Regions from separate parts of the Homo sapiens genome. Here region 1 is linked to region 2. The links come from fine-mapping of genetic effects on gene expression. A gene starts in region 2. The other region holds a variant in brackets. All regions are shown on one strand. Distances are between the middles of the regions.

Region 1 (4,387 bases), 28 kb after region 2:
TGATACAAAACTTAATATATAGACTAGAGTTTCTTAGCCGAACTGGAGGGGCTGGCCTTAGGTAATCCATGGACTCCCTGAAACTGGGGACACCATTGGAAATATGAGTGAGCTCATGGGCAGTTTCCTATGATTTTCAGGCCTCAAAATGTCTCTTGGACTCAAAGATGCCTTACGGCAGAGGACACGTGTACCCCCAGTATAGAATCTCGGACAGTGAATGTCAGTAAACATTCGGCAGAAAAGCTCTGCCAAATTGAGTGCTCTGATGTGACTTTTTCATCAAGTCAATGTTCCTGGGATCTCTTGTATATGATAATCTCACACTTGTAAGGTTTCATAGTTTCTGCTTACCCTAGTTTTCTTTCCCACCCTCCCTCTCCCACCAGACTGGACTCTGAAATGGGCATGTACAGAGAAGAGGAGACCCCAAAATGCTTCAGGCTTTGAGTGGAGAAGACACAGCCTCTGCTGGGACAGGGAACAGATGGATGCGGAGACCCTGAAGATGCTTTTGGATGGTGGTCTGAGGTTGGGACAGTGGCAGGAGATACCATTCACCCAGGATCTCCAGGACAAGAGACCAGCCTGGCAGTTACATGTGTTTTTCTTCAAACTGGTTGCCAGGTTGGAATGACCAATGACATCAGAGATTCCAACCTTCCTGATTGGAAGGACTGGACTCCATGGGCATCTGGGAGCTCAAGTGGACAACTGCATCTTCTCAGAGCTGTTCTCCACTCCTGACTTCTCTCAGCCTCGAGAATTGATAACACACCTTCTGGGTCCTAGCAGAGTCCAGAAGAAGGCCTTGGATAGAACAGAGACTAGGTTCCGTGGGTTGGGATAGATTTTGGGAAAGATCATGACCAGCCATCAACCGCACCCCCAGGATGAGGAGCAGAGCCCCCAGCTGAGCACCTCAGGGTACCCCCTCCAGGAGGTGGTGGATGATGAAGTGTCGGGACCATCAGGTGAGGGGACTGGAGGAAGAAGAGGTGGGATAGGATTGACTAAGGTGAAGGAAGGGGGCCAGGTGCAGTGGCTCACACCTGTAACCCTAACACTTTGGGAGGCCGAGGCGGATGGATCACCTGAGGTCAGGAGTTCAAGACGAGCCTGGCCAACATGGTGAAACCCCATCTCTACTAAAAGTACAAAAATTAGCCAGGTGGTAGTGGTGCGCGCCTGTAATCCCAGCTATTTGGGAGGCTGAGACAGGAGAATCACTTGAGCCTGGGAGGAAGAGGTTGCAGTGAGCCAAGATTGTGCTACCGCACTCCAGTCTGGGTGAGAGAGTGAGACACTGTCTCAAAAAAAAAAAAAAAAAAAAGAAGGGTCAGAGGTCAGGAAGGAGAACCTGAGGAGGGTGTATGGGAAGAATGGAGAAATTCAGGCCAGGTGCAGTGGCTCACACCTGTAATCCCAGCACTTTGGGAGGCCAAGGCGGGCAGATCACTTGAGGCCAGGAGTTTGAGACCAGCCTGGTCAACATGGTGAAACCCCATCTCTACTAAAAGTACAAAATTGAGCTGGGCATTATGGCAGATACCTGTAATCCCAGCTACCTGAGAGGCTGAGGCATGAGAATAACTGGAATCCGGGAGACAGATGTTGCAGTGAACTGAGATTGCACCACTACACTCCAGCCCGGGCGACAAAGCAAGATTCTGTCTCGAAACAAAAAAAAAAAAA[AC/C]CAATAACAAAAAAACAAGCAAAAAAGGAGGGACTCAGAGAGCCAGGGACCAGGGAAGGACATGAAGAAGTGTTCTGAGGACAGAGATACGGAAGAATGGGGAGGGGAAGGAGCGGCTCATGGGGTTGAGCAGAGGAGAAAGCCAGAAAGATGGCTTGGAGAAGCCAACAGTCTGCAAGGCTGGGGAGGATGGAGAGTGGTTTGGGGTTGGGGTCGGGGTCGGGGTCTAAGGTGATCAGTTGCAGAAGCATTACATGGTGGCCTGGTTTCTTTACTCAGCCCCTGGGGTAGATCCCAGCCTCCCATGTAGGTCCCTTTGCTGGAAAAGGAAGAGGGAGTGGTCGGACCAATCTGAGGAGTCATCGGAGGAGGCGCCAGAGAAGGAGCTCGCCCCTGAGCCTGAGGAGACCTGGGTGGCGGAGATGCTGTGTGGGCTCAAAATGAAGCTGAAGCTGAAGCAACGGCTAGTGTCATTCGTGCTCCCTGAGCACCATGAGGACTTCAACAGGCTGCTTGGTAGGAGGACACCCCAGAGAGCACCTCCAATCCTGTTCTTTTAAAAACGAGGAAAACTTTCAATAACCACACTTTTCCAATGGGAAAAATATGCCCCCAGTGGGTGAGCTCTCCATGCGGGAGGACTCAGAAGTGATCACTCATGAGGGACGCTTAGGAGATGATAGAGGATTAGGCTGGAGTTGATAAAGTTTGGCTCTCGGGATAAGAAAGCTTGGTTTTGGGCTGGGCGCTGTGGCTCACGTCTGTAATCCCAGCACTTTCGGAGGCCGAGGCGGGCGGATTACGAGGTCAGGAGATCGAGACCATCCTGGCTAACATGGTGAAACACAGTCTTTCTAAAAATATAAAAAATTAGCTGGGCGTGGTGGTGGGCGCCTGTAGTCCTAGCTACTTGGGAGGCTGAGGCAGCAGAATGGCGTGAACCCCGGAGGTGTTGCTTGCAGTGAGCTGAGATCGCGCCACTACACTCCAGCCTGGGTGACAGAGAGAGACTCTGTCTCAAAAAAACAAAAAAACAACAAAAAAAGAAAGTTTGGTTTCGGGACAGGTGCTGTGGCTGATGCCTGAGATCCCAGCACACTGGGAGGCTGAGGCAAGAGAATTGCTTGAACTCAGGACTTTGAGGCTGCAGTGAGCTATGACTGCACGACTGCACTCCAGCCTGCATGACAGAACAAAACCCTGTTTCAAAAGAAAACCAAAGGCCGGGCGCAGTAGCTCATGTCTGTAATCCCAGCACTTTGGGAGGCTGAGGCGGGTGGATCACCTGAGGTCAGTTGTTCGAGACCAGCCTGACCAATATAGTGAAACCTAGTCAATACTAAAAATACAAAACTTAGCCGGGTGTGGTGGCGCACGCCTGTATTCCCAGCTACTTGGGAGGCTGAGACAGGAGAATCTCTAGAACCCGGGAGGCAGAGGTTGCTTTGAGCCGAGATAGCACCACTGCACTCCAGTCTGAGAGACTGAGACCCTGTGGCAAAAAAAACAAAAAAAACAAAAAAAAAAAAACAAGGACGGGCCCAGAAGTCAGGAAGGAGCACCTGAGGAGGTGTGTGGGAAGAATGGAGGGACTGAGGCAGGGTGCAGTGGCTCACACCTGTAATCCCAGCACTTCGGGAGGCCAAGGCAGGCGGATCACTTGAGGCCAGGAGTTTGAGACCAGCCTGGCCAACATGGTGAAACCCCATCCCTACTAAAAGAACAAAAATGAGCTGGGCGTTATTACGGGCACCTGTAATCCCAGCTACTTGGGAGGCTGAGGCAGGAGAATCACTGGAACCTGGGAGACGGAGATTGCAGTGAGCCGAGATTGCACTACTACACTCCAGCCTGGGCGACAAAGCAAGACTCTGTGTCAAAAAAAAAAAAAAAAAAAAAGGAGAGACTCAGAGAACTAGGGATGAGGGAAGGAAATGAGGAAGTGTTCTGAGGACAGAGAGATGGAAGAATGGGGAGGGGAAGGAGCGGCTCATGGGGTTCAGCAAAGGAGAAAGACGGAAAGATGGCTTGGAGAAGCCAGCAGTCTGCGAGGCTGGGGAGGATGGAGAGTGGTTTGGCGTTTTGGGTCTGGCTCTAAGGAGTTCAATTGCAGAAGCATTATACAGTGGCCTGGTTTCTTTACTCAGCCCCTGGGGTAGATCCCAGCCCCCTGTGTGGGTCCCTTTGCTGGAAAAGGAAGAGGGAGTGGTCGGACGAATCTGAGGAGTCATCGGAGGAGGAGCCAGAGAAGGAGCTCGCCCCTGAGCCTGAGGAGACCTGGGTGGCGGAGACGCTGTGTGGGCTCAAGATGAAGCTGAAGCAATGGCGAGTGTCACCCGTGCTCCCTGAGCACCACGAGACTTTCAACAGGCTGCTTGGTAGGAGGACACCCCAGAGAGCACCTCCAATCCTGTTCTTTTAAAAAAGAGGAAACTTCCAATAACCACACTTTTCCAATGGGAAAAATATGCCCCCAGTGGGTGAGCTCTCCATGCGGGAGGACTCAGAAGTGATCACTCATGAGGGACACTTAGGAGATGATAGAAGATTAGGATTAGGTTGGCAATTGGGATAAGAAAGCTTGGTTTTGGGCCAAGTGCGGTGGCTCACGTCTGAGATCCCAGCATGTTGGCAGGCTGAGTTAAGAGGATTGCTTGAACTCAGGACTTTGAGGCTGCAGTGAGCTATGAT
Region 2 (4,314 bases):
TTAATATGAGATGTCTGAAATTTTATACTACTTAATAATTCTCACTTACCAATTCACTAGGACGTATCCTTTAAATGAAAAAAAATAAGAAAGTAGTCATAGCTGATATTTTCCTTTTACAGCAGGAGAGAAAACGTATAGCTGATGCACCTAAATTTCTGTAGGGCTCTTTCTAAAATATCAATACATAGTGAACAGACTATCTTAAAACAAGAATGAAAACACAGCTCAAAGTTTTTATTTCAAAATGCTGAACAAATTTTAGCTACCTGATTTAGGTAATGAGTGAAATTTGTGCACACAGTGTTGATCAGTTAAACTCCTCTCCTCACAGAGCTGATGGCCATTGCTCCAAAATTTGTAGCAGTCCTCATGTAACTGCATGGCGTATTTGTGAAATGCTGGACCTCTAGCATGTTGACTGTACACTCGAAGAGCCTGGGCAAGCTGATTCTTATGGACAGTCATTGTGTAATTATGAGGCAAATTTGACTGGTAGGCACTGTGGGCCATGGGTAAAGCTTTTTGGCATCGGTTTTCTGAGAATTTTGTGTCAATATCCAAAAATCCTTCCAAGACTTTAATACTGCTTAAAATCTTAGATGTTAGCTCTCCAGTGGGTGACCCCAAGTCCTCTTCTTTCCCATCAATAGCCACCTCATACAGTTTTGAAGCTGCTGAGATCCACTTCTGATAAGTAGGAAGTTCAAAATGGGAAGGCTGTGGGTTCCTGCCCACACTGTCATCGAAACCTTTCTTGCTTAGAACTAGCTCCACATGCTGCCATAGGAATTCCCGAAGAGTGAAATCCACTAGCTGGCCTGAAGAACTGGAACTGCTGCTGTCAATGTGAAAGGAAAGTTGTTGTCGGCTGTGCTGCCTCATCACCTGGTATCGCCTAGGCCCAGAAAGGGGTGCAGGCACCAGCAAAGATTCCGGGTCCTTCACAGTACAATGACTCCTAAGTTGGTCCAGCAACATACCTACTGGGTCCTCCTCCTGGCTTCCCGGTACTATGTACACGAAAGCTTGGTTGGCAGGCACAGTAAAGAGGCAGTTGATGCTCTGATTAGTCAAGACACGACTCTTCCGGAAGATTCTATAGATCTGGTCCTCCAGGGCATGCTGCAGCCTCCTTTTGGGAGAATGTTTCTTGGGCTTGTCTGGATGAGCTGGGTCTTGGTTCCGAGGAGGTTCTACCTTGAGGGCTCCATTGAGTTGAAAGAGGAAAAGGAGTCTAGGTGGGCAAGGTCGGCAGTTTAGCTTCCAGTCTTTGCCAACTGGACAATCCTTAATGGCTGTTTTAAGGAGCGGCAGGACCTTCTGTCTCAGCCCATCCAGGGCTCTGAATACTCGATCATAAGTGATATCAAAGGAACAAGTGGGATGGACCAGAAGCAAGATATGACAGACAGAGAATAGGTAAAGGAGACTGAGGCACTGCAGCTTCTCTTGATGCTTCCAGAACTCGTGTGCTTCTGCATGAGGTAAAGAGAGTCCACCTCCAGCTTCCCCGCTCTGAAGAGCCCGACAAGCCCGGAGAAGCTGTGAATTGTCACAGATGGAGGTGAGGAGAAGATACAGAACTTTGCTTTCCTGACTGTAGTAGGCCTGCAGAAGGCTGTAGTCCTGGGAGCCTGCCTCAGTTCGGTTACCTTCCGCGACAGCTCCACTTCCCCGAACTGAACCCCCGGCTGCAGCCCCAGGGTCCTCGGCTCCACCGGCCTCACCCACGGCGCCAGCCTCAGTTCTGATTCCAGGTCCTGGATCCCCAGGATCTTGGTGGCGAAAGAGAGGAAAGACCTGTCGGTCGCACACCGTATTCACAAGAGAGAACTTCTCGGAATTCAGGCGTAGAGCCGTCTTGCCGAAGATTCCCACAACGCAGATCTCATCCTCCCGCCATGGAGGCTCCGGTCCGCCAGCCGCGCTCCCTCCGCCCTCAGTAGGGGACCCTCCGGGACTTTCAGAGCCCATCCAGGCTGATGCTCCCATTAGAAGGTCTCGCAAGCTCACGGGACCAGCCATAGTGCAGAGCGTTCTCTAGAGTCCTTCCGGTCCGTTAGTAAAACCGACCGGCTTTCGTCCAATTTTGAAATCCTTCCTCCGCTTCTTCAGTTCCTGCTTTCCCGTCACTTGAGTTCCGCCTCCTCTTCTCCTCTCCTAGTTTGTTTCCTCAACTGTAGGAATTGAGATATCAAAAACAAAAAACAAAAAAACAAAACAAAACTGGGACTACTGCGGTGGCTCACGCCTGTAATCCTAGCACTTTGGGAGGCCAAGGCGGGCGGATCACCTGAAGTCAGGAGTTCGAGACCAGGCTGGCCAACATGGTGAAACCCCATCTCTACTAAAAATACGAAAATTAGCCGGGCGTGGTGGCGGGCGCCTGTAATCCCAGCTACTCGGGAGGCTGAGGCAGGACAATCGCTTGAACCCGGGAGGCGGAAGTTGCAGTGAACCGAGATCACACCATTGCACTCCAGCCTGGGCAACAAGAGCGAAAACCGTCTAAAAAAAAAAAAAAAAAAAAAAAAAAAAGCAAAAATTAGGCGTGGTGGCGCATACCTGTAGTTCCAGCTGCTCAGGAGGCTGAGGCAGGAGAATTGCTCGAACCAGGAGGTGGAGGTTGCAGTGAGCCGAGATCACCCCGCTGCACTCCAGCCTGGGCGACAGAGTGAGACTCCGTCTCAAAAAAAAAAAAAATTGCGAAATATCTTTGTATGTAAATTATAACTTGCAGAACCTCTCTAACTAGAAGGCATATTGACAAATAGCTGCCAGGATAAAACTTACAACCAGATTTAAATGTATAATTATAACGTTTATTATTCTGGGGTTTTGTAAAAAATAAAAATCTTTGAATCTAAAAAAATTATCTATAGCACTATACAATAACATGACTGAATCTTTAAAATAAATGTTGATTGAAAGAAATCAGAAACAAAAGTGTATATACCCTATAATTCTATTTTTTTTTTTTTTTTTTTTTTTTTTTGGAGATGCAGTCTTGCTCTGTGGCCAGGCTAGAGTTCAGTGGCGCGATCTCGACTCACTGCAACCTCCGGCTCCCCGGTGCAAGTGATTCTCTTGCCTCAGCCTCCCAAGTAGCTGGGATTACAGGTGCGTGAGACCACACCCAGCTAACTTTTGTATTTTTAATAGAGACAGGATTTCACCATGTTGGCCAGGATAGTCTCAATCTCCTGATCTCATGATCTGCCCGCCTCGGCCTCCCAAAGTGGTGGGATTACAGGCGAGAGCCACTGCGCCAGGCCTGATTTTATTTCTATAGAGTTCAAAAGCAAGCAAAATAAACCATTGCATTTAGGGGTGTGTTCTTACTAAAAGCAAGGAAATATTTATTGTACCAAGTAGGTCAGTGATTACTTAGTGAGGGAAGGGATTATGATATAATATATATATTATATATATACATAATAATATATATTACACATATACATAATAATATATATTATATATATACATAATAATATATATTATATATATTTTGAGACAGAGTCTTGCTCTGTTGCCCAGAGTGGAGTACAGTGGTGCAATCTAAGCTCACTGCAAACTCCACCTCCCAGGTTCAAGTGATTCTACTGCCTCAGCCTCCCAAGGAGCTGGGATTACAGGTGCACCACCATGGGCGGCTAATTTTTGTATTTTTAGTAGAGATGGTGTTTCACCATGTTGGCCAGGCTGGTCTCGAACTCCCGACCTCACATCATCCACCCACCTCGGCCTCCCAAAGTGCTGGGATTACAGGTGTCAGCCACCACACCTCGCCTCCGGCCTAAAATTTTTTTTTTTTTTTTTTGTGAGACAGAGTCTCACTCTGTCACCCAGGCTGAAGTGCAGTGGTGCTATCTGGGATCACGGCAACCTCCATCTCCTATTCCCTGTCTCCGTCTCCTCAAGCAATTCTTCTGCCTCAGCCTCCCAAGTAGCTGGGATTACAAGCACGTACCACCACGCCCACCTAAACTTGTATTTTTAGTAGAGATGGGGTTTCCCCACGTTAGCCAGGCTGGTCTCGAACTTCCAACCCCAGGTGATCTGCCCACCCCGGCCTCCCAAAGTGCTGGGATTATAGGTTTGAGCCATCACGCTCGGCATTGATTTTTTAATTCATATATTTTCTATACTTACTATATACTTTTTTGTTTTTTTGAGACAGAGTCTCACTCTGTTGCCCAGGCTGGAGTGCAGTGGCGTGATCTCAGCTCCCTGCAAGCTCTGCCTCCCGGGTTCATGCCATTCTCCTGCCTCAGCCTCCCAAGTAGCTGGGACTACAGGCGCCTGCCACCA

Alleles and levels. Alleles are on the strand shown, and positions count from the first base shown. SD is a standard deviation of normalised expression in the study named.
As copies of C replace AC in region 1, the expression in subcutaneous fat of the gene that starts at base 2,045 in region 2 goes up (small effect, 0.22 SD a copy in FUSION).

The links. PIP is the estimated chance that this variant, and not a neighbour inherited with it, causes the effect. A credible set is the group of variants that fine-mapping cannot tell apart.
Region 1: its variant is the best candidate, but not a certain one, in a credible set for the expression of SMG8 in subcutaneous fat (FUSION, PIP 0.65).

The regions. Positions count from the first base shown.
Region 1 is chr17:59,179,336-59,183,722 of GRCh38, reverse strand. All of the region lies in intron 2 of PRR11 (proline rich 11), which reads right to left. It also overlaps the pseudogene SPDYE22P. Among named protein-coding and RNA genes, the nearest start is that of PRR11, 26 kb to the right of the region's middle. RefSeq lists an enhancer at 844-1,345. The variant AC/C (reference allele first, on the strand shown) is at 1,696.
Region 2 is chr17:59,207,766-59,212,079 of GRCh38, reverse strand. SMG8 (SMG8 nonsense mediated mRNA decay factor) reads right to left here and starts at 2,045. Exons shown (of 4, transcript NM_018149.7): 1 at 270-2,045. The coding sequence starts at 2,028. RefSeq lists an enhancer at 2,167-2,236.